Homo sapiens: one gene and its partners. The protein of the gene in region 1 binds, or shares a complex with, the protein of each later gene. Each region holds a gene or a part of one and is shown in the gene's direction. Other genes may lie near its edges. The genes, in order: MED12, CCNC, MED13 and MED26.

Region 1 (7,036 bases):
GTCTGCATACCTGTCCCGCCGGCTTGCCTACTTCTGTACACGGAGACTGGCCCTGCAGCTGGATGGTGTGAGCAGTCACTCATCTCATGTTATATCTGCTCAGTCAACAAGCACGCTACCCACCACCCCTGCTCCTCAGCCCCCAACTAGCAGCACACCCTCGACTCCCTTTAGTGACCTGCTTATGTGCCCTCAGCACCGGCCCCTGGTTTTTGGCCTCAGCTGTATCCTACAGGTAGGTACTAGGCGGGCCCAAGGAAGCATTGAGAGATAGCCTGAGAAGAATCAGGTGCCCATCCCAGAGAATAGGGGTAATTCCAAATTGGATGTGGGAGTAGGTGCTGAGTACTTGCTTGGAGGTTGTTGTTTCTTGGTAATGGGGTGTTAGTCCCCTTTGGGGGTTTTCACCAGCCTCTCTCTCCCTTCCAAGGCTAAATAGTGGGCCCAAAGCCTTTTAGGAAAGTGAGTGAAGGGAGGGGATCGGGGTGGAGTGATGCCTGTCTTGGGGACCCAGTCAGAATAACTTTGGATCTGGAATCTACGGGTTGGGTCTTAGAATGGGATTCCAGAGGGGTAACCATGGTGAATGAGTTGGACTTAGCTGTTTCTATCTGGTAGACCATCCTCCTGTGCTGTCCTAGTGCCTTGGTTTGGCACTACTCACTGACTGATAGCAGAATTAAGACCGGCTCACCACTTGACCACTTGCCTATTGCCCCGTCCAACCTGCCCATGCCAGAGGGTAACAGTGCCTTCACTCAGCAGGTATGTCTGACCACTAGCCTGGTACTCTCAGATTGGGCTATGAGGCTAAATTACTCTTTCAGAAGTAGTGATTTGGAGTCTAGTACTATTCTTCTAGCCTGGGGCTCTGGCCTTTTATATGCCTTGGTACATCCTTGTAGCCTTCCTTTTTAACATTGCAGGTCCGTGCAAAGTTGCGGGAGATCGAGCAGCAGATCAAGGAGCGGGGACAGGCAGTTGAAGTTCGCTGGTCTTTCGATAAATGCCAGGAAGCTACTGCAGGTATGTGTCAGAGAACAGATAATAGGAAATATGTTTGAGGAAAGGATGGGGATAGTAAGGACATGTAGATCTAAGAGCCAGAATGCACCGGGCCTCTGGTTCAGTCCCCTTTACCACTTTTCCTCCTTAGGCTTCACCATTGGACGGGTACTTCATACTTTGGAAGTGCTGGACAGCCATAGTTTTGAACGCTCTGACTTCAGCAACTCTCTTGACTCCCTTTGTAACCGAATCTTTGGATTGGGACCTAGCAAGGATGGGCATGAGGTAAGCGAAAAGGGGAATAGAAGGAGCAAAAAACATTGCAAGAGCAATAATATGTCTGAGAGGGAAGTCATGGTGAGGCATTGAAAGCAGAGCATATCTGCAGAAATGATCTTACTGGGCCCAGGATGTTTTATGATAGAGCCCAGTCTTTAGGAAATTGGAACTCATTTCTTTGTCCCCACCCCTACCTTACTCCTCCTTCTCTTCCTTTGTTCTCCAGATCTCCTCAGATGATGATGCTGTGGTGTCATTGCTATGTGAATGGGCTGTCAGCTGCAAGCGTTCTGGTCGGCATCGTGCTATGGTGGTAGCCAAGCTCCTGGAGAAGAGACAGGCGGAGATTGAGGCTGAGGTTAGAGGGCAGAGATAAGAGAACAAGATTGGCCAATGGGAAGGAATTTACTGCGGTTGGAGACCGAGAGATGGAGGTGGTGGAGGGACCAGAGTTGAAGGTGTGAGAACAGAGTAAAGAAGCAAAAGAGAACCTAAAGGCAAAGTTACGGACGTGAGGCGAAAGTAGAGAAGAGTGGATTGTAGTAAGAGTTAGAGATAACATCAAGGCTTCAGTTGGGAGGTGGTAAAGAACATGGAGGTCAGCAGGGGAATGAAAGTGAAAAGCATGGGGTAGAGGTCAAGCAGGTGGTAGTTTAAGGCCTACACATTGAGGAGTGAAGAAGCAGGTAAAAGTCAGTTCTACAATTTGTTCTGTCATCTTGCAGCGTTGTGGAGAATCAGAAGCCGCAGATGAGAAGGGTTCCATCGCCTCTGGCTCCCTTTCTGCTCCCAGTGCTCCCATTTTCCAGGATGTCCTCCTGCAGTTTCTGGATACACAGGCTCCCATGCTGAGTACGGACCCCTACCACTCTCTAGTTACCTCTGCCTAGACTCAGTTACCCACCACTGTCATCAGAAAGCATAATTAACAGCCCTCTGGTCTATATTTCTCTCTTGGGCTCTATGCAGAATGACTTTTAGATGTAGTTCTAGTGATCCTCTTTAACTGGTCATCTTACAGTTAAACAGAGTAGAGAAATACAGAGAAGGATAAAAACAAGAGCTTGTGATTGAAGCATTTTCACTGCATAAATCGCAACAAAGATGTTACATTCCTTTCTGAGATGATGTGTGGGACAGCATGTGGGGTAACCAACCACACTTTGTCCCTCAACAATTTCTGGGATTTCTATTTGATCACTCTTATTATTGCCTTAGGTGTGTCCCTCTCTCTTTTGGCCCACCTTTTTGTGTTCTCCTAACTTATGTTTCCTCATTCCCTTCCTCCAGCGGACCCTCGAAGTGAGAGTGAGCGGGTGGAATTCTTTAACTTAGTACTGCTGTTCTGTGAACTGATTCGACATGATGTTTTCTCCCACAACATGTATACTTGCACTCTCATCTCCCGAGGGGACCTTGCCTTTGGAGCCCCTGGTCCCCGGCCTCCCTCTCCCTTTGATGATCCTGCCGATGACCCAGAGCACAAGGAGGCTGAAGGCAGCAGCAGCAGCAAGCTGGAAGTGAGTGGGCTTTTCCTTGCACTAGATCGTTTCTTCTGACATTTCCATCTTCATGGCTCCCAGGGGCCTCTAAGAGCCTCTTTTGCCTGGGGGAGGGGGGTAGTATTTTTCTTAGCACTTGGTGATTGACCAAGCACTCTCACATCAATTGTTTCATTGGTTCCTCCCATCAGCCTTGTGAGGTACTCTTATCCCCATTTTCAAACTGAAGAAAACAGAGGCCTATACTGGTTAAGTGATTGGATGAGGCTTGACTCCAGATCCTGTGCTTTCCCCAATCTGGTCTTCTCTCTCCACTTCCCCAATGAAGTTTTACAGATGGTGGGAGCCACTCCCTAGGGCTAAAGCAACTTCGCTTATGTTCTATGCCCTCAGGATCCAGGGCTCTCAGAATCTATGGACATTGACCCTAGTTCCAGTGTTCTCTTTGAGGACATGGAGAAGCCTGATTTCTCAGTAAGTTCAATCCTGAGCGTGGCAGAATCTGGATCCTTGGATCTTCCCATTATGCCTGCTTTTGGCATGTTTTTTTGCCCCCTCATCCACTTTCCTTCTTCTCATGTTCTGCTTTCTCACCTTTCTCTCAGTTGTTCTCCCCTACTATGCCCTGTGAGGGGAAGGGCAGTCCATCCCCTGAGAAGCCAGATGTCGAGAAGGAGGTGAAGCCCCCACCCAAGGAGAAGATTGAAGGGACCCTTGGGGTTCTTTACGACCAGCCACGACACGTGCAGTACGCCACCCATTTTCCCATCCCCCAGGTACTATTCCCCAGCACCTTGTGATGATCTGTTTTGAACCCAGATTGCTGTCAAAGGAATTTGCTGAGGGGTTGGAGCTGTTCTGAGGATGTGGGTTGGGAAAGGGAAGGGCTTTAGCATGTGGATGCTGAGGGGTGTGGAGCATGCTTTCAAGAGGAGGGAAGGAGATCGGTGCTGGAGTCTGATGGTGCTGCTGGGATGCAGGAGGAGTCATGCAGCCATGAGTGCAACCAGCGGTTGGTCGTACTGTTTGGGGTGGGAAAGCAGCGAGATGATGCCCGCCATGCCATCAAGAAAATCACCAAGGATATCTTGAAGGTTCTGAACCGCAAAGGGACAGCAGAAACTGGTGGGTTTGAGGCTCCTTAAACAGATCTCCCCCAAAGAATGCCCTAGTCAGTCTTCCCTTCCCCAGTATAGGGAACTCCCCAGTCATGTCCCAATGTCCTGTCTCTTGGAGTCTCCTGAGAGCTCTAGTCCTTTTGAAACTTCCCCCCTCATTCCCCCCCTCTACAGACCAGCTTGCTCCTATTGTGCCTCTGAATCCTGGAGACCTGACATTCTTAGGTACCTCACAGTAAGCCCCATACTGCCCTCCCTCCCTCTCCCTTCCCTCCCTGAACCTAGCACCTCCCTGTACATATTCCTTTAAGGTCCACATAGTCTGTGGTCCTCTAAACCTTTGCTTCACTGTCCCCTTCCCTTCATTCCTCCCCCATCCCTTCCTTGACCCTCCCTTCCCTGTTTCCCTCTTCCTTCCTTCCCTCCCTCCCTCCTTCCATCTCTCCCTCCCTCCCTCCCATAGCCTTCTCTCCATACCCCACTCCCCACCCCTAGTCAACTAGTTATCTTCCCTGTCTTGACTGGTCCCTTTCAACTGTCCCCTCAGGTGGGGAGGATGGGCAGAAGCGGCGACGCAACCGGCCTGAAGCCTTCCCCACTGCTGAAGATATCTTTGCTAAGTTCCAGCACCTTTCACATTATGACCAACACCAGGTCACGGCTCAGGTGTGGGCCTAAGCCCAGCCCCTTTCCCACATTCTGGCCTCCTGTTCTGTTTTCCTTTTCTTCCCTATCTTCTCCCTGCTAGGCAGGCTAAGCCTCCTGGTCTCATCCCCTTCCAGTGTCATCCTTTCCTCCTTCCCTGGTTCTTTCCTCTCTCCACTCCCATCTCACTCCCACTGCCCTTATCAGGTCTCCCGGAATGTTCTGGAGCAGATCACGAGCTTTGCCCTTGGCATGTCATACCACTTGCCTCTGGTGCAGCATGTGCAGTTCATCTTCGACCTCATGGAATATTCACTCAGCATCAGTGGCCTCATCGACTTTGCCATTCAGGTGGGGAAGTTGGGGAGATGAGGGTGGAGGCAGGAGTTCATGCCATATAGCGGCTACGGAGGGTCATAAGGACAGGCGTAGAGGCTCCAGCCAGTTTCCCAAGCTATTTGAAGGGGCAGAAAGACTAGCATGGGGGGAGTGGAACATGAGCTAAGACTGCAGGAATAGAGACTTAAGTGCTCCCTGGGGAGGCCAAGAGGCAGATTAGAGCATTGGGCACAGACCATCCTCCCACTGTGGAGTTCATAGAACTGTATCCTGGACACTGGTTAGAGGTGTTGTTGATAGAATAAACTATCAACAATAAACTATCAATAGAGGTGTTGTTGATAGACTGTGGCATAGGGTAACGAGCCCTTCTATCCTGTGGTGGCTCCAGCAGGAAGGGGCTCAGGCCCAGCCTTGCCAGCGTCCCCACAGGAAGGTGGTTTCTATGTAACACAAGGGGCCTCTTTGCATTTCTCACCCCCGTTTACTCTGCTAGCTGCTGAATGAACTGAGTGTAGTTGAGGCTGAGCTGCTTCTCAAATCCTCGGATCTGGTGGGCAGCTACACTACTAGCCTGTGCCTGTGCATCGTGGCTGTCCTGCGGCACTATCATGCCTGCCTCATCCTCAACCAGGACCAGATGGCACAGGTCTTTGAGGGGTAAGCAGAGCTTCGGAATAACTGAAACAAAGCTCTGGCGAATGCCGGTGGAAGTGGCCTGGGAAGAGCATGCACTTCCTCACACTCTGGGGAAGCACCTGCTGCTCAGGTGGGAAAAGAATGGTATTTCCCAGAGGCTTGAATCTGTTTGGAGGAGCCCGCATACCATCTGCTGACCCTCCCAACCTTGCTTCTTCATGCAGGCTGTGTGGCGTCGTGAAGCATGGGATGAACCGGTCCGATGGCTCCTCTGCAGAGCGCTGTATCCTTGCTTATCTCTATGATCTGTACACCTCCTGTAGCCATTTAAAGAACAAATTTGGGGAGCTCTTCAGGTAAGAGAGGTGGAAGGTAAGGGGTAGCGAGTGGGACCTACTCCCTTCTTCCCATGACCACCCAACTCAGGAGGAGAGGATGGCCCGGGACCCTGCTGCCTGTCTAGGGTCATTTGTGGACTGTGTCCTCCACATACTGTTGTGTTACCAAGAGTGGGCCCTCTTCCTCAGCAGGCTTGCTCCCCGCCTATATCTGTGGGGCCCACCCTCTTCCCCCTTTTCCTCACTGCCTTCAGAGGCCCCAGTTCCTTATTCCCATGTGGTTCCTTTCCTGCCCAGTCTGTTTTGTCCCATCTCCCTTTTCTTGTCTCAAGATCCTTCATCCCTCACTTTCTCCTTTTTTTCTTTTCTCCCCTTTCCTGACCATCCCTCGACCTCAGCAGGCCTTCTTCAACACTACTATCTCCTTTCCTCCATCCCTGCAGCGACTTTTGCTCAAAGGTGAAGAACACCATCTACTGCAACGTGGAGCCATCGGAATCAAATATGCGCTGGGCACCTGAGTTCATGATCGACACTCTAGAGAACCCTGCAGCTCACACCTTCACCTACACGGGGCTAGGCAAGAGTCTTAGTGAGAACCCTGCTAACCGCTACAGCTTTGTCTGCAATGCCCTTATGCACGTCTGTGTGGGGCACCATGATCCCGATAGGTATGGGGTGTACTGAGTGAGGAAGGGCACCATGCCCCCATCTGAGATAGGGAGGGCTGAGGTACCCGGGAGGTACTACAACCTTGATTATTTAGTGGGGCAGAGATGAGAAGTTAATGGGTCTGAGGTTTTGTGGAGCAAGGTTTTTCCTGAGGGCATTTGTACTTTTCCCTAGGGTGAATGACATCGCAATCCTGTGTGCAGAGCTGACCGGCTATTGCAAGTCACTGAGTGCAGAATGGCTAGGAGTGCTTAAGGCCTTGTGCTGCTCCTCTAACAATGGCACTTGTGGTTTCAACGATCTCCTCTGCAATGTTGATGTGAGACTTGGGGTGGGGTTTTGCTAGTGGGGCAGTGACCAGGGCAGGGGGCTGGTTGTGATCCTCTGACCAGGGACAGAGTTCCGTAGAGTGGAGGCACACCGCTTTGAGTGGGCCTCCACACTGAGTCATGGTGTCTGTCTGTTTTTTCCTCCAGGTCAGTGACCTATCTTTTCA
Region 2 (2,810 bases), on another chromosome or scaffold:
TGATCTGATATTGTAAAGATAAAGAATTTTGGTTTTTAAGTGACCCTAAGGTCCATGGCACATAAGAATATATTTTTGCTAAAAATGAATCACCTGTGCTAAGAGGGTTTTTTTTGTTGTTATTGGGGTGTATGTGTGTGTTTTAAGTAAGATGTGTTCATTTAGTTCAGTGGTTCTCAGCCCTCACTGTGTATCAGTTCATTTGGGGCAGGGAGAAAAAGTCAGAAGGGAAATAAAGAAATGCCATCCATCTTAATTGTTTCTTTAGAAAAATGATTGTTATATAACAAGATAGATTTATGGATTGCTACTCATAAGTTAATGTTACAATTTGGAAAAAGTTAATACTTTATTCAAGGAGCTGTTTAAGGCAGTCATTCAAACAGCTACCTTTGGATGCATTTTTTGCAGAAATTCCCTGAGTGATTCTCCACTAGTGGCAGGGCCTGAAGCTGCAAGATGATGGTGGACAAGATAAGGCAATAATCCTATTGCCAAAGTTACTGGTATTTTCAGTTTTAGTTATTTTTAAGTATTCAGCATTTTTATTTTAAGTATTCAGCATTTTCCAGGAAATTACCATATTTCTTGCTGACTTATAAAGGTTTGCTGTATTTATATATGATTTTATTATGCCTTTGGACAACAGTTTTGGTTTTTTTTTTTTTTTGAAGAACACTTCTTGTTTTTCATAAATAGTAGGAATAGGATTTTATATGTAAGATTTAATTTTATAGGAAATTTGTTTAGAAGAAGCTGTAATCTCTATGTTGAGTGATACCTGTAATAACAATGAAATCCCATACCCTAATTTAAAGTTTTTGAGTATATATGGACACTAACTTCCAGAATGCTTGTTATATGTGAGGGCACAAAGTTATATAAGAATAAAAACATAAAACCAATGTTTGTTAGTCTTCTGGATTTTAATTTTTCACGTGTCTTATAATGAGGAATGTCTTTGTTTTGTATAGTTGTGCCACAGAATAATGAATTTAAAAGTCAGTAGGCTTATCAGGGTGTAAAAATGGATCTTTTAATTGGTATAAAATCTCTTTCTTCCCCATTTGAACAGTGAAGGAGAGCAGGGTCCAAATGGAAGTCAGAACTCTAGCTACAGCCAATCTTAAAACATTCCGAAGAATTCCATAGTGGACCACTTGGAAATAAACCATTGGACAGATTTCAGTAATGTCTTCAGTGGAACACAAATGAAAATGAATAGCTTGTTTCTGTCAAGCATATTGGAAAGTGATTTTATTTTTGCAAAATAAGTTTTTCTTTAATATGATTCTAGTACATAATTGATTAAAATCTCTTGATTATAAATGTTTGGAAAGGTTCTAAGGGGACCTACAGACAGACATACATAGACATTTCAAAATTAATAGCTTTTGATTAGTATAATATTTCTTAATTTGGATAATAAAAATTGTAGCTTTTTATTAAGCCAGGAAACATGAAGCATAATTTGTTTAAAATTCTCTTTGGTCATTGAGGGACCAAAAAAGGACGTAAAATTTACAGTCAATCTATGAGGGTTTTTTTCCCTCCATAAGTTTAACTTTAAAACTGTATTTAAGGAATCAAATCTTACAAAATCCTGGAAGATTTTGGTAATGATGTTGATAATTTCAGGGAAATTAATCAAGTACCTATATTGATTTAAAAGTGTATTTTATTCAGTAGTTTGAGGATCTTGCCATGGAAGATACTAGCCCAGCCTAGCAGAAAAGTGCAATATGTATAGCATACTTTGACATTTTAAACATGATAGTCCATAACCATTTTGAAATGCTGGGCAAACTACATGAAGTTATTTATAATTAATTCACAGCTAATCAGGCATTTTGAAAGCTTAATTGGATTCAAAAACCATAATGTTGGAATTTGGTAAAATTTTAATGTTGATTTTTACTGTGAAAAGGTTTTTATAAGATATACACACCCTAGTTTAATGTTGTGTCTTGGTGTGGATTTACAGATTTACTACAGGTATTCTGAACCAGGAACACAATCAGGTTTCAGGCCAGTTTGATACTGGCTGTCCTTAATTCTAATATGAGAGTAGGACATCATACTAAATGTTATGTCAGTGGGACTGTACTGTCTGTGGAACTTAGCAAATTAATCATTTTCTTCAGACTTGAAGGAGAGTGATAAATAAAATTTGGAGTCATAGGATATTGATGCACAATTTAAGGATTAAACATTTTTAATCAATTGTGGATGATGGCTTATTAAATGTTGACTTCCTAGTATAAAACTGCAAGAATAAAAGTAACTTCTCCAGCTGTATCGACTAGTGTCTTGAATTTATCTTTTTGAATTTGCCTGATGTTGTTTTTTGAGAATTCTTCTTCCTTTAGTTAAGTGTTAAAGCCTTTTATAGGTTGTCAAGGGGGTAATTTCAAATCATTACAAACAGATTTTAAATAGAAAATTTATTTCTGATGGAGCGTATCAAATGAGCTGGAAAGCGAGACTGTGTAAAGTCAGACTGATGACATATATAGGTTTCCTGGGCTTAATAAGAAAAAAAGCTCTCCTCAGGTCTGAAGGAATTAATGTTGGGCTTAGGTAAGACCTATAGTCTTTAAGTGTTTATTTTTAAAATTAATACCATGCCTCATAGTTTTGTTTTCAGTCTCTTATTGTGGAAGATTTAAAACAACATATACAGGAGTAAAGTAAGGAACCTCCATGTACCTATCATCTAGCTTCAGTAGTTATCAATTTATGGCCAATTTCATTTCATCTAAACTCCCACCCACTTTCCGTAAGTTGCCATCCCCCATCTTATTTTGAAG
Region 3 (7,036 bases), on another chromosome or scaffold:
CTTTTAATTTGGAGGCTTACCAAATAAATTAATCTGGAGTCAGTGATTAAGAAATATTTTATATCTTTCAACACTAGTATGTATTTGGCTGTATCACAGATTCAAAATACTACTTTTAATGAATGGGCTTTACTGTTAAGTTATATCTGAATGATTACTATTTTGAGATCACATTGGATGTAAAATTTTAGATAAATATGTGCTTTTTTTAAATAGCCTGGATCTAAAAAATCAGCAAATGGATCAGATGATAAAGCCAGCTGCAAGGAATCAAAGACAGGAAATCTGGACCCGTTATCTTGCATAAGTAAGCTTCCCTCATCTGTGCTCGAGATAAATTTGCGAACTTTTAATCTCAACAAAGCTCCCCACTCCTTTTGGTTTAAACACAGATTCGCCTATTTTTAGTCATGTTAAAATGTATGTTTTTATTAAATATAGGCACTGCAGATCTTCATAAAATGTATCCTACACCACCATCATTGGAACAACATATTATGGGATTTTCCCCAATGAATATGAATAATAAAGAATATGGTAGTATGGATACAACACCTGGAGGAACTGTTCTAGAAGGAAATAGTTCTAGTATAGGAGCGCAGTTCAAAATTGAGGTTGATGAGGGATTCTGTAGCCCCAAACCTTCTGAAATTAAAGTAAGTATGTTTTTTCTAGAAAAATAATTCACTTCCTATATTTTCTTATAGAATTAATTTGTTGCTATAGTCAAAAATTATTTTATAGTGGTTGCGGTTTTGTAGCTAAGTTGAGGACTGAATTATTGTTGTCACTATTAAGAATGCATTTAAGAAAATAATAGAATTGTATTTAGATTTTATTCTGTTTAAAGAAAGGAAAAAAGGTCCAGAGCCTGTTTGTTTATTTATTTTTTCCTCCTAGAAGATAAGATACTGAAAACCTACCATCTTTATATTGTAGGATTTTTCTTATGTCTATAAGCCTGAAAATTGTCAAATTCTAGTGGGATGTTCCATGTTTGCACCTCTAAAAACTCTACCAAGCCAATATCTGCCCCCTATCAAATTGCCAGAAGAGTGTATTTACCGTCAGAGTTGGACTGTTGGAAAATTGGAATTGCTTTCTTCAGGGCCTTCAATGCCATTCATCAAAGAGGGGTATGATTTATGTTGTTACAATAGTATGTGACTGCTTATACAGCTTTAATTTTTTTTTCATAGATTTACCTGGTATGCTGGAAAAATAAAATTGGTTTTTGAAAATTCTAAAAATTATTTCTGGTTAATCAATTATAGTGATTGGCTGGGAGCAGTGAATCACGCCTGTAATTCCCATACTTTGGGAGGCCAAGGCAGGCGTATCCCTTGAGGTCAGGAGTTTGAGATCAGCCTGGCCAACATACGAAACCTCGTCTCTACTAAAAATACAAAAATTAGCCAAGCGTGGTGGCGCATGCTTGTAGTCCCAGCTACTTGGGAGGCTGAGGCACAAGAATGGCTTGAACCTGGGAGTCAGGCATTGCAGGGAGCCGAGATCGCACCAGTGCACTCCAGCCTGGGCAAGAGTGAGACTTTGTCTCAAAAAAAAAAAAAAAAAGGTTAATTGGGTATGGATAAACTATTAGGAAACTTAAGACTATTATGCTTGATTTGTATTCCGAAGCACCTTTTCTTTTGGGCTGCAATTTTAAATTGCTCCCATTTTTACATTTGCCATCTTTTCCACACTTTTCACATTTTAACATCTCTGACTTGGTCAGTTTCAACTCAAGGCTAAAAGAAATCTGAATCTGAGATGTCTTATAAGTGGTAGCATTTTAAAATTACCATTTTTCCCTTTTTACACATGAGCATCTCTAAAATCATTTTTCTTTTTTTATAGTCAGTAGCATCTTAGAATCAAGGAAATATAAGTATTTCTAGTAAACAAAATTTATAGATAGTAAATATGGATGTCTAGGTATGCATTAGTGTATAGAGTGCTTATTAATGATTTTTGAACTTGTTAATTGATCCTTAGTCAACAACAATCACTTAGAGTAGATATGTTAACCAGAAATAAGAATTGACTGTGCTTGTAATTCTTGCAATACTTGTCCTTTCATAATTTTCTATGTAATTGAAAAACATTTGGGACGTTTTTAGTTGTATTTCACATTACTAATATGTTCCTTTATATATATATTTGATCTTCTTTTACCCTGGTGATGATAGTGATGGAAGTAATATGGATCAAGAATATGGCACTGCTTATACACCTCAAACTCATACTTCTTTTGGGATGCCTCCTAGCAGTGCACCTCCTAGTAACAGCGGAGCAGGAATTCTTCCTTCTCCATCCACCCCTCGGTTTCCAACTCCAAGGACTCCAAGGACTCCTCGGACTCCTCGTGGAGCTGGTGGACCTGCTAGTGCTCAAGGTTCAGTCAAATATGAAAATTCAGACTTGTATTCACCAGCTTCTACCCCATCTACATGCAGACCCCTTAATTCTGTTGAACCTGCAACTGTCCCTTCCATCCCTGAAGCACACAGTCTTTATGTAAACCTCATCCTTTCAGAATCAGTTATGAATTTGTTTAAAGACTGTAACTTTGATAGTTGTTGCATCTGTGTTTGCAACATGAACATCAAGGGTGCCGATGTTGGAGTTTACATTCCAGATCCAACGCAGGAAGCACAATATAGGTGTACCTGTGGCTTCAGTGCTGTCATGAACAGAAAATTTGGAAACAATTCAGGATTATTTCTTGAAGATGAACTAGATATCATAGGACGCAATACAGACTGTGGCAAAGAAGCAGAAAAACGTTTTGAAGCTCTCAGGGCTACCTCTGCTGAACATGTTAATGGAGGACTAAAGGAATCTGAAAAATTATCTGATGATTTGATATTATTGCTACAAGATCAGTGCACTAATTTATTTTCACCCTTTGGAGCAGCAGACCAAGATCCTTTTCCTAAAAGTGGTGTAATTAGCAATTGGGTACGTGTTGAAGAGCGTGACTGTTGCAATGACTGCTACCTTGCATTAGAACATGGGCGTCAGTTCATGGATAACATGTCAGGAGGAAAAGTTGATGAAGCACTTGTGAAAAGTTCATGCTTACACCCCTGGTCCAAAAGAAACGGTAAAGTATGCCAATAAAATACTTTTTTGTTTGCTTATTTCCCTTTAGTTACATTCTTAGGAAAAAGTAATAAAGGCAGTTTCCCATGTGGCAAATACATTTAAAGTTGGACTTAAAACTCTTTATGGATGATGTTTTTAAAGGGAGAATTTCTTAGCAGTTTAGTTTAATTTCACCAATAAAAGTATGGTTATTATAAATCTGTAATTATATACTTATGTAGGAATATGAAAGGCACATTCCATATATTTATTAGCATAACATTGCTAGTGGTCTGCTTTATTCAACATTCTTTCACTCATTAAGTATTTACTGGGCACCTTGTATGTGCCAGGTATTAGCCTAGATTCACTGTTGAACAAAGCACACATATTCTTTGCCCTTTTTGAATCTATAATTTAGTGGAGAAAATAGGAAATAAACAAAAAAGCATATAATAGATAGTAAGAAGTAATTTGGAGGAAAAGCAGAGTAAAACAGAACAAGACACCACATATGTACTATTTTAGATGTATGGTCAGATAAGATACTACTGAGGAGATAGCATATGGGAAAACTCCTACATAACATAGAATATGAGCTATGTAGTTAAATGAGGGAAGAGTGTTTCAGGCAGTGCAAAGACCCTGAGGGAGTATTTTGCTTTTACATGTTTGAGGAACATTAAGGTGACTGATGCTGCTGGAATGCTTTGTGTGATAGGGAGACTGGAAGGAGATGAAATTTAGGAGGTAGCCATTCACCAGCATCATTTAGAGTCTTATAGACCATGTAAGGCCTTTGTGGTTTATACTAAATGTGATGGGAAGCTATTGAACAGTTTTGACAAGGAAAGTAACATGATCCTTATTCTGATTGTTTTTTAAGAGATCTCTCAGTCTGGCACAGTGGCTCATGCCTGTAATCCCAGCACTTTGGGAGGCTGAGGTAGGCAGGTCACCTGAGGTCAGGAGTTCGAGACCTGCCTGACCAACATAGTGAAATCCCGTCTTTACTAAAAATTTAAAATTAGCTGGGCTTGGTGGTGGGCGCCTATAATCCCAGCTACTCGGGAGGCTAAGGCAGGATAATTACTTGAACCTGGGAGGCGGAAGTTGCAGTGAGCCAAGATCGCACTACTGCACTCCAGCCTGGGCAACAGGAGTGAAACTCCCATCTAAAAGAAAAAAAAAATGGCTGGGTGCGGTGGCTCATGCGTCTAATCCCAGCACTTTGGGAGACTGAGGTGGGCAGATCATGAGGCCAGGAGTTTGAGACCAGCCTGCCCAATATGGTGAAAAATACAAAAATTAGCCAGCATGGTGGGGCGTGCCTGTGGTCCCAGCTGCTCAGGAGGCCAAGGCAGAGGAGTTGCTTGAACCTGGGGGGCGGAGGTTGTGTTGAGCTGAGATAATGCCACTGCACTCCAGCCTGGGCAACAGAGCAAGACACTCTGTTGCTATTGTGTGGAAAATAGCGTTGGGGTTTGGAAGTAGTGAAAGTGAGAACAGAAGCAGGATAAATCAGTTGGAAGGCAGTTTCAGTAGCTTAGGTGAAAGATGATGGTAGCTTAGACAAGATAAGAGGCCAGCGAGATGTAAGTAATAGGTTTTAGGTTATTTGGGAAATAGAACCTACAGGGTTTGCCAAAAGACGTGTAAGGAAAGATGAGGCATCAATAATAGCTTGAGCACCTGGGTGAATGGTAGTACTAACTACAGAGGAGGGAAACACGGGGGAGTAAATCAGATACACATTTGGAGATAATATGTTTTAAATTCAGAGGAATGATTGGGTCTGGAGATAGAAAAATTTTGTGTGTGAGTTATTATGAAAAGCTGTGGATCTGGATGAAATAAACTGTAGAGTAATTGTAGATAGAGTAGTACAAGGATGGAGCTGACATTTATAAGTGGGGAGGGAGAAAAGGCACCAGGAAAGGAAATTGAGAAGGAGGTTGGAGGAAAACCAAGGGAGCATGGTATCCTAGAAATCAGGTATAGGGAATTTTTGTTTGTTTGTTTTTGTTTTGAGACAGAGTCTCGCTCTGTCACCAGGCTGGAGTGCAGTGGCGTGATCTCGGCCCACTGCAACCTCCACCTCCCGGGTTCAAGCAATTCTCCTGCCTCAGCCTCCCAAGTGGCTGGGACTACAGGTGCACGCCACCACACCCGGCTAATTTTTTGTATTTTAGTAGAGACGAGGTTTCACTGTGTTGCCCAGGCTGGTCTCGAACTCCTGAGCTCAGGCAATCCACCTGCCTCGGCCTCCCAAAGTGCTGGGATTACAGGTGTGAGCCACCGTGCCTGGCCCGGGAATATTTAGAAGAGAGTGATCATCTCTATCAAATACTTCGATACATTAAGGTGAAAACTGAGACAGGCTATTGGATGTGACCAAATAGAAGTTGGTGGTCACCTTGATAGGCAGTTTCAGTCAATCTGATTGGAGTGGGTTCACAAAAGAACGGGATGAGAAGCAAACTTAGACAATTTTCTGGGGACTTTTGCTGTAAATAGCAGAGAAATTGCATAATAGGGTTAAAAGAGAGGTTTATTATTATTTTATTAAAGGTGCATTGGGAGTGATCCTATAGAAAGGAATTTTTTTTAATTGACAGATATGGCTTATGGCTGTAATCCCAGCATTTGGGAGGCTGAGGCAGGCAGATCATTTGAGCCCAGGAGTTCAAGACCAGCCTGGTGAACATGGCAAAACCCATCTCTACTAAAAATACAAAAATTAGCTGGGTGTGGTAGCATGCACCTGTAGTCTCAGCTACTTGGGAGGCTGAGGTGGGAGTATAGCTTGAACCTAGGAGGTGGAGGATTCGGTGAACCATGATTGTACCACTGCACTCCAGCCTATTTGACAGAGTGAGATTTTTCTCAAAAAGAAAAAAATGGCCATGTTTGCAGGGTTGAGTAATCATGATAGTACAGATGGAATGTTATATGGCTTCTGAAAATGAATTACAGTTATGTATAACAAATAGATGAATCTTAGTGATACTATTGAGGAGAGGAAGAGGGAACAAGTCCCAGAAGATTACATATAGTCAGATACCCTTTAAAAATACCTCTTTAATGTATTACCGTTAATAAAGTTTTGAAACAAGCACAACTAAATGTATTATTTACATGCACATAAAATTGAGAATATTGGTTAATTCTTGAAATTTCACATGTGTCCAAAAATGACCAAGAGATAGGGATAGGGAGAAACATTTAATAAGATCGTTTTTGGTAATGTTCTAGTTCTTGGGCAGTGAGATTACAGTTGTTCATTTTATTATTAAAGAAAATTTTTGAAATGTAAGAGGACAACACATGGACCAGTGATTAAGTTCATGTATATGACAGTATCAGCATTTATCCAATTATTCATTCTCAGGGACCAAATTTAAAAAGGGAAAGACACAAATAAATATCATAGGTATTCAAAAAAAAGGAAAGATTATTTTAAGCCATATAGAGTAGTTAAGATCATAGGCTGTGGACTCAGACTGCCTGGGTTTGAAACATGACTCTAGCACTATATACTACCATGACTCTAGCACTATATACTACCTGCTACCTTGGGCCAAGTTAGTTAACCTTTCTGTGCCTTGATTTCTTAAAATAGGGTCAATAATAGATTTACTTTACAGGGTATTGAGAGAATCAAATGAAATACAGAGCAGTTGATCCGCCCACCTTGGCCCCCCACAAAGTGCTGGGATTCCAGGCATGAGCCACCCAGGAGTTTGAGACCAGCCTGACCAACCTAGTGAAACCCCATCTCTACTAAAAATACAAAAATTAGCTGGGCATGGTGGCGCATGCCTATAATCCCAGCTACTCGGGAGGCTAAGGCAGGAGAATTGCTTGACCCCATGAGGTGGATATTGCAGTGAGCCCGAGATCCTGCCATTGTACTCCAGCCCAGGCGACAAGAGTGAAACTCGGT
Region 4 (7,036 bases), on another chromosome or scaffold:
AGAGTTAATAATTTCTGCCAATTCAGTAATAAAGTAAATCCTCTACTCTCCTTTTGAAAAGGCTACTAACAGTTTTTCAGAGCAGTTGGAGCTTTTCTTTTCGTCGTGCACCCTTTCAGCCCAGGGTGTTGAAAATCTCTCCGAAGCGCAGTGTGTGCATGATTGTTCCAGCTTACTCTCACTGCATTGTGGGTAAAGTGAAGGACTGTGTCTTACTCTCGCACAGCAGTCATAGTGAGCAGTCTCCTCAGCAGGTGATTCGGTTCCCATCTGCCTGGGACACTCGTTCTGTGGAGGTATGAGCTTTATCTTCCTGTGCAGCACGCAAGCTTCTTGGGGATGTTTCCTGTCTTGTCTTCTCCCTCTAGAGCAGAAGCATTAGGCACACTTTCTACCTGCTGCTTAAACTGACTGAACCCTAGCATCCATCTTGGACCTGTGCCTGAGGAGCTACATTTGAGCCCCATTTTACCAAGAAGCCTTTGTGACCACTTTATGCCCAAGAGTTCAGTCGTGGAATATTCTAATGCAGAACTTTGGAGAGTGGAAGAATCACAGGTGGCTTGAGATGCTACTCAGTAGAACTGTGAGGAACACAGATGTTAAGTGATGATTAACAAACTTAGCTTTTAGAGGAAAGGTCCGACGAATAGTAGACGGTGTACTGCATCCTCATGGCAAGTAAAATAACCGCACAGGGCAGGGCTTGCTAGCTGCAGGTGAATGCCCTGTGTTCAGACCAGGGAGAGGCCTGAGAAGGTCCCGCAGCAAAGAGGGACTTGAACTAGCCCTGGCCGCGTGTGTCAGTGCCTCCAGCTGCCAGGCTCTGAGCGGGAAACGTCCTTGGGAGCTGCTTTCTTTTTCACAGCTCTTCAGGCAACAGAGACCAAGGGAGAGGTGACCGAGGCACTCTGCAGAGAGACACAGCAAGAAAGATCATTTTCCCACCTAAGAATTGGAAGGTTGGATGTTGCTTACCTTGGTTTGCCTGCAGATTTCTTGTCCACAGGGTGGGATTGGGAACTGGTGTATGCACCCCATAAAGCTCCTTCCAGATCTAAGTTCAGATCCTAGAAGGGACAGCAGAGACTAATGTCAATTGTTCTAGAAGGGGTTTTTTTTTTTTAATATATCTTTGCAAGGTACATTGTGTGAAGTTTCTCAACTAACAAAATTCTAAACCAAGGTGTATGCTTTGTTAGTTTGTGTGGCACCCTGTCAGAGAGTTCTGCTTCTCCCCAACAGCCTTGTGAGTGGGGGAGCCAGTCTCCCCTTTTGCAGGTGCAGAAGCCAGCAGCATCAGGTAATAGGTGCTGCTCAGTGGGTGTCTCCAGGGGCAAGCAGAGGATAAAATGCTTTTGTTTCTTACTGACTTAATGGGAGGTGGTGGAACCAAAGTTAGGGACTTACCCAGAGTCATTAAGTGACAGTCCTTAGAGTCCTTTCAACTCTGAACACCACCACGCTGCCTTGAAAGTTGGAGAGATGGCTCCGGAAGAGGCACGAGGGGGCAGCATTTTTGAGCTGGTAAGAAAACGTGTGAGGATCCTGTAACGTCCCCTACAAGTGTATGTGAGATTACAGATTGGGGCTGGATTTACCTATGTTACATCTAACAGGGTGGTGATATGACATAGCCTGTCCCGTGAACATCTTAAGGTCTCTGTCACAGACAGAAACCTGGGCCAGACCACGGTGTGGCAACTAGCAACCGATGTGGAACTTTTCATGAATCTGTGTGACCAGTTTGCTCTCTACTTCAACATTACAGCACTTTTGATATTAACTTAAAATGCCATTTATTCTGCAGAAAAGCAGAATGGTGTAAATTGCAAAATGAAGGACTCTTGATTCTGACCCTATCCAAAATAGTAGAGGACCCTAAACCCAAACATGTAAATGCCACCTGATCCACAATTGCCCAGATTCAGGGACTCTCCTGTCTTTACTCTGTATATTGTGGCCAGGACACAGGAGAGGAGCAGCGTGGTGTTCTCTGACTTCGGGAAATGGAAAGGTAGCAAGTATCACCTGTGACACAGGTGTATGTCCTTGTCTTTGACTCATTCTGTCCCTCAGGAGAAAGTGGACTTTACAGTCTCTCCTCACTGAGGTTTCTGGGTGGTCCTCAGAATATGTTGTCCTGGTTGGAGGTCCCAGAGCCCTGGAGGACTGTCCAAGACCAGCATGTGGTCAGGGGCTTTGTTCTGGATACAGATGTAAAAAGGCACCATGGTCACGTCAGCCCCTGGGCAGCTGTGTAAGATAGGACATGTAGCTTAAGGGCGCCAAGGTCTCTTAGGTGAAGGAGGACACTTGGCTTTCCTTTTCTTGGTTTTGGGGTCTGCGAGCATCTTCTCAGATGGAGCTCTAGTTTAACCAGGCTGACTCCAGGTGACTCCAGTCCAGCGGGAGGGGTCCCCTGGCCACTTCCCCACTATCATCTCCTTCTGGAAACTGGGTGCTTTGTTACTGCACGTTGTGCTTTTCCTTTGTATTCCTAGTGGTAGGCTGTCCCACGTCTGCCTGGTTCCTTTGGGGACCAGGAGCTGGTTGTCAGAATGGGTGGCCAAGTTTGTGGCACAGTGAGTAAAGGAGAGGCAGCACATTTCATTCCAGTGTGGTCTCGCTAGCACCCATGCTTGGAGCACCTTCCAAAACAGCCGCTTTTCACTCTTAGAGCAGGGTGTGGATTTGCCATCGGGATTCCCTGAACCGGGAAGCATTTCCTGAGTAAGAAAGACATACCGATAATTCTACATGCTGTATTTAAAGGCCTTCTCTGAATACATTCCATGCCTTGGGAGGCACTGCAGTTACATTTCAGTCACTAACTGATTAGCAAGTGCTCGTGTGCTGGGTGTAGAGGGTACAGACCTGAAGATGCTCAGCCCCTGTGCCCAAGGGGCTTGGCGCCTCATAGGGAGGAGGGCAGATAGAGCATGGTCATGAACGAGCTTGGGTGGGGTGCCGTGGCATGTGGGCTCGGCAGTCAGGGATGGCCTGATGGTGCCGCAGGTCTCAAGTCCAAATGGAACAGTTCTCCCCGTGCCTTATTTGAAAACAGTTGAGAATTCTTAAGAATATGAGATGGCTTTCTTAAGTATATTCTATCATCCAGGTTTTCAGAATAAGTTCTGTAGTCAGGCAGGCAGGCTCTTCTTGCGTTGTCTCTGGCATGAGGGGAACAGAGCTGGAAGGAACAGTCGGCAAATTATTGCACAGTTTTCCCTCTCTGCTGTGGGATGGGGCACAGGCAGATGTCGAGCTGTGTCTGTGGGTATGGTTGGGGTGTCTGGGCTTGAGAAAATGGGAAGGGCCTTGGGGTAGCATTACATGGCACTGGTTTTCAGTATTTGGGGTGTTGTTGTACCCTCTGGATTAGATTTGCTCTGTGTGGCTTTTGGAGGCAAGCCTAGGGTGGGGAAGGTGAGAGTTCTGTGATGTGCTTAGGGAAGTGGTGGATTATTGTCAGAGCTGACTTAACACAGTCTGGGGGCACTGTGAGATGGCTATGTGGACATACCCAGGCCCTTGGATTCTGTGTATAGGCCTTTGGATTCTGTGACCATCCAAGTACCGGGAGGTTCTGCGATTCTCTGTGGAGCCTATTCAAAAGGAGAGGGGTCATGTCAGGTGAAGTACCAGCAGCCCTCTGGGAACTCACATCCCAAGGATTGCCAGGCAATTGGGGTTAAAGGCCTTTGGATGTTACTGTGACTGCAGCAAAGTTTCCTGGGTTCATCCACTGCAGGAAAATGAATCTTGGAAAACGTCAGGGGGCTCATCAGGTTTCCCCTGCATGCAGAGTTAGGCTCGGTCTCCTGTGTGCCAGCAGCAGTCTCTGTTGGGCAGCAGAGGCTGCAAGACGAACAGCCGCTGTTTACTGAGCACTTACACAGTGCCAGACACTACTGTGTGGAGTGTCTCATTGCTTCTTTGAATTACTTCTAGGGTAGGTGCTTCATCTTCATTTTAGGGGCTAGGAGAGATTCACCGATTTGTCTGGTATTGCAGACAAGGGAACCAGAAGCCTTGGGTCTGAATCCATCACTGGGTGGTTCTGATGTCAGAGGGCTTAACTACGACAGTCTTCCGCTTCCCACATCGGTGGTGCCCAGCATGGAAGCTGAACTCCATTGCGTCTTCCAAGGTGTACCCTTGCAAACATGAAGTGTTTTCACATGTTACATTTTGAATTCCATTCCTTCCCAGTTCCTACAACTTTTCCCCCTTTAAATTCCTCTAGCCTAGTGGCTCCAAACCTTTTTGAGTATGAGGGTTCATTTTTATCATCAGAAACCTTCTGGAAGCTTCACATAACAACAGGTGTGCTTTGAGTAACTGTTTTAAAGAAAATTCGAGGACAGAACCTACTCCTAATCCAGTCATGCTTCGAAATGAAGTTCTGTCTTGTCATCAAAACAGCATCAGTGTAACTCTGAGAGCAGGCCTTACCTGTATGTGTGTGACACCTGGAATTTGACCTTTGTGCTGCCTCCAGTTGGGAGCCTCCTGTCATCCCTACTGCCTCCCTTTTCTGAAACCTTACCTGGCTTAATCCAAGACCGTCTCCCTCAGGAACCATTCATCATTTTAACACCTTATATTCCTGCTGATAACAGGTCTTGTTGGTTACATTTTCCATGTGATTGTGAAGTGCCCAAGTAGGAGAGCAGGTGTTGCTCCCTTAGTGTCTAGAACTGCCACAGCACGTGGGTGCCCAAATGCTTGGTGCTCTCACTGTAAACAGGGCCAGTTTTGGGAATGGCTGTCAGCGTTACTGAGCAGGTCCTAGGTGCCAGCGGTTTTCAGCACTTCACCTGCATTCAAAACACATTTAATCTTCATAGCAGGTGTAGATTAAACAGGAGGCAGGTACTAGTGAGGAAACTGAGGCTCAGCGGACACAGCTGGAAGGAGGCTAGATGGGATGAGGCTGGGGTTGGAACACAGCCACCTGCTGGCTGCCTCCCTTGTCATGTGAGAGGCCAGTGGGCACTTGCTGCGCAGGCACTCCCCTTTCTTGCCTGGGTCCAGCTGTTTATGCTGGATTCATCTGTGCACTGCTCTTATGCCAGACTGGGAGGACAGTGGTCACTAAAATGCTCTGTGCTTTCTCTGGAACTGGCTGAAGAAGGGGTGTGAGGTGTGTTTTCCTCTCTTTCTCGTCAGGTATTTTTCACCCTAATAGAGAAGGCGGCGCTTGATCTTAGATTTCTGCCTGTCCATGGTCCCTAGACACTGTTCAAATGTCACTTCATCTGTGAAGCCTGGGTCCCCAGCGATCCTTCGGCCTTTTTTGGTCATGTGACAAAACATGGCATTCCTGGACACACATCCCCCCAGATTTTCATTTGCTATGGTGAGAAAGTAGGGTGCTGCTTTGTCCAGGCCACACCCTGGTGGTGGGTCAGCCTCGTGGCTGCTGTGGAGACTCGGGTATTCGTGTGCTGGGTGCACAGCATGGTTTTATAGGGCGTTGGCTGTGGCTGGCCTTGACTCTGGTGGGGGTTCTGTGGTGCAGGCATCAGCAGTGGGTGAGTTACTGGGAGGACTCAGGTGGGTGTGACCCATGGCCCACACCGAGAGCCCAGTGGGCTGGCAGCACTCCCAGGCCCTGGCAGCCCCACTGCCTGCTTGTGCCTTCAGCACGGTAGTGCACTCTTCTGTTTCCCACCCACACTCCTGGTCACATTGGCTCTCTGGGCAGCCCCCTGCACACACTGGGTTTAAGTTCTTATCCCCTTGATGACTTGTTTTGATGTCCCCCGTTCTAGTCATCAGGTTCCTGGCCCAGCTTGAGTTAGGCATGGAGAGGTGGCCACATCCTCGTTCCCCCCAGGGTGATGTAGTAGTTACCATGGTAGCTAACGGCTCTCCTGTTCTGCAGGCCAGCCCTCCAGAACCCTTTATAGATGCTGCCCAACTCCATTCACCTCCCAGGTGCATCTTGCATGGTGCCTAGGCAAGCAGTCAGCAAGCTGGCTTTTCAGTGCTGTCAGTGGGAGACCCGTGATACTGATGTGAAGGGATATAAAATAAGAACAGTTTTATCCTTTTGGGTGGTCATTGGTTCACATTGTTTCCTTCCGTGTTAATTGGTTGCCTGCACAGCACTTGTCTTTACTTCCTATACTAATTCTGTGGCCTGTCCAGCCCTAAAGGGAGGTTAGCACTGTGCTGGTGGCAGGAGCTTAGACACAAAGGGGCTGATGGTCATGCAGGCCCAAAGGCAAGTCTGCGGTCAGGTGAGGACCTGGTTTTTCTGTCTCCCTCTTTTGCAGTGTTGCCTTCACACAGTAGGGTGTCTTCCTCTCCATCCCAGCAGTTTCAGGATTTTCCCTCACCGAACTCCCGACTCTTTGCTGGAAGCCCCACCAAACGTTTCCTTATGCCTTCTCTGAGCTTTGATTGGATTAGCAGTTTGATTGAATTAGTTGATTGGCTTACCCCTGAATCTGCTGTGGGTTCCACCCAAACAGTCCCACAATAGAGGGGATGTTCCCAGGAGACATCAAGGTCCTGTTAACGGGAGAAGAATAGTGGATCCAGTGTCCATGGATGTGCACTGATGTCATCACCTCTCCTGATGTGACCGCCAAATAGTTGGGCCTTGGCTCCAGAAGGCAAAATGGGAGTTTTTGGGGAAAAAAATGGGAAATGTAAGGTCCAGAGTAGCAACAGGGTGGTTTGGCTGGTGTGAGGTCACCGCGTGGAGTTGTGAGTACCTTCTTGTTCTGGTTAAACCACAGACTCCATTTGCCTGTAGTCACCCTTGGGGACCTCGCTGTCACGCTGTCCGAGTGCAGGTGCTGGCCAGCTGCAGCTTCAGATCCTGTCCTGGGCTGGAGACAGTCTTGAATGGTGCTGTTTTTTCCTCCCTGTCTTGACAGTCTCTCCTGGTGCTTCAGTCACTGCCTGGAATGGAGCTCATTGCTGGGGGAGGTGGTGCGGTCCAGGTGGCCTGAACCCCACCAGGCCTCCTGTGGTCATGAGGAGACTGCGCTGTGACCCAGGCAAGAGCTGTGGCCCC

The links.
Region 2: the proteins of MED12 (region 1) and CCNC are in contact, whole or in part, in a cryo-EM structure (PDB 8TQC), measured with the Homo sapiens proteins. Residues at the interface, in NP_005111.2 of Homo sapiens: Ile6, Leu7, Ser8, Tyr9, Glu10, Pro13, Leu14, Lys15, Arg18, Leu19, Pro22, Asp23, Val24, Tyr25, Asn47, Pro49, Ala50, Val51, Asp54, Glu55, His56, Gly57, Ser58, Ala59, Lys60, Phe64, Pro66, Ile69, Asn72, Phe73; in NP_005181.2 of Homo sapiens: Gly3, Asn4, Phe5, Trp6, Gln7, Tyr11, Ile15, Asp17, Gln19, Asp20, Lys23, Gln49, Glu53, Leu57, Arg58, Gln59, Ile62, Tyr153, Arg157, Pro158, Gln161, Tyr162, Asp165, Leu173, Pro174, Trp177, Arg178, Ile179, Asn181, Asp182.
Region 3: the proteins of MED12 (region 1) and MED13 are in contact, whole or in part, in a cryo-EM structure (PDB 8TQC), measured with the Homo sapiens proteins. Residues at the interface, in NP_005111.2 of Homo sapiens: Ala3, Phe4, Arg12, Pro13, Arg16, Leu86, Thr123, Thr127, Thr150, Pro152, Val153, Met154, Arg155, Phe242, Pro278, Leu281, Arg282, Arg356 (codon at 200), Pro357 (codon at 203), Phe360 (codon at 212), Gly361 (codon at 215), Cys364 (codon at 224), Gln367 (codon at 233), Thr368 (codon at 619), Cys372 (codon at 631), Pro407 (codon at 736), Glu408 (codon at 739), Phe413 (codon at 754), Val417 (codon at 927), Lys1526; in NP_005112.2 of Homo sapiens: Ser157, Glu158, Thr336, Val337, Pro339, Gln340, Ser341, Gln343, Lys344, Trp345, Lys347, Phe348, Asp1186 (codon at 2,860), Ile1189 (codon at 2,869), Leu1190 (codon at 2,872), Gln1193 (codon at 2,881), Asp1194 (codon at 2,884), Pro1332, Ile1333, Thr1335, Leu1337, Tyr1340, Asp1341, Tyr1342, Asp1343, Tyr1344, Leu1345, Val1346, Leu1347, Ser1348.
Region 4: MED12 (region 1) and MED26 share a complex: the UniProt entries of both Homo sapiens proteins name them as parts of the mediator complex.

What each region holds. Positions count from the first base shown.
Region 1 is NC_000023.11:71,121,582-71,128,617, forward strand, and holds part of MED12 (mediator of RNA polymerase II transcription subunit 12), read left to right. Parts: coding exon 1-235; intron 236-618; coding exon 619-765; intron 766-926; coding exon 927-1,026; intron 1,027-1,156; coding exon 1,157-1,293; intron 1,294-1,513; coding exon 1,514-1,645; intron 1,646-2,012; coding exon 2,013-2,139; intron 2,140-2,577; coding exon 2,578-2,807; intron 2,808-3,182; coding exon 3,183-3,263; intron 3,264-3,394; coding exon 3,395-3,565; intron 3,566-3,769; coding exon 3,770-3,914; intron 3,915-4,081; coding exon 4,082-4,132; intron 4,133-4,454; coding exon 4,455-4,573; intron 4,574-4,759; coding exon 4,760-4,903; intron 4,904-5,387; coding exon 5,388-5,551; intron 5,552-5,754; coding exon 5,755-5,886; intron 5,887-6,311; coding exon 6,312-6,539; intron 6,540-6,714; coding exon 6,715-6,859; intron 6,860-7,016; coding exon 7,017-7,036. UniProt on the Homo sapiens protein: Component of the Mediator complex, a coactivator involved in the regulated transcription of nearly all RNA polymerase II-dependent genes.
Region 2 is NC_000006.12:99,541,875-99,544,684, reverse strand, and holds the end of CCNC (cyclin-C), read left to right. Parts: intron 1-411; coding exon of another isoform or gene 412-463; exon of another isoform or gene 464-905; intron 906-1,075; coding exon 1,076-1,130; 3' UTR 1,131-2,298; downstream 2,299-2,810. UniProt on the Homo sapiens protein: Component of the Mediator complex, a coactivator involved in regulated gene transcription of nearly all RNA polymerase II-dependent genes.
Region 3 is NC_000017.11:61,978,271-61,985,306, reverse strand, and holds part of MED13 (mediator of RNA polymerase II transcription subunit 13), read left to right. Parts: intron 1-216; coding exon 217-307; intron 308-441; coding exon 442-656; intron 657-939; coding exon 940-1,136; intron 1,137-2,192; coding exon 2,193-3,109; intron 3,110-7,036. UniProt on the Homo sapiens protein: Component of the Mediator complex, a coactivator involved in the regulated transcription of nearly all RNA polymerase II-dependent genes.
Region 4 is NC_000019.10:16,618,203-16,625,238, reverse strand, and holds part of MED26 (mediator of RNA polymerase II transcription subunit 26), read left to right. Parts: intron 1-7,036. UniProt on the Homo sapiens protein: Component of the Mediator complex, a coactivator involved in the regulated transcription of nearly all RNA polymerase II-dependent genes.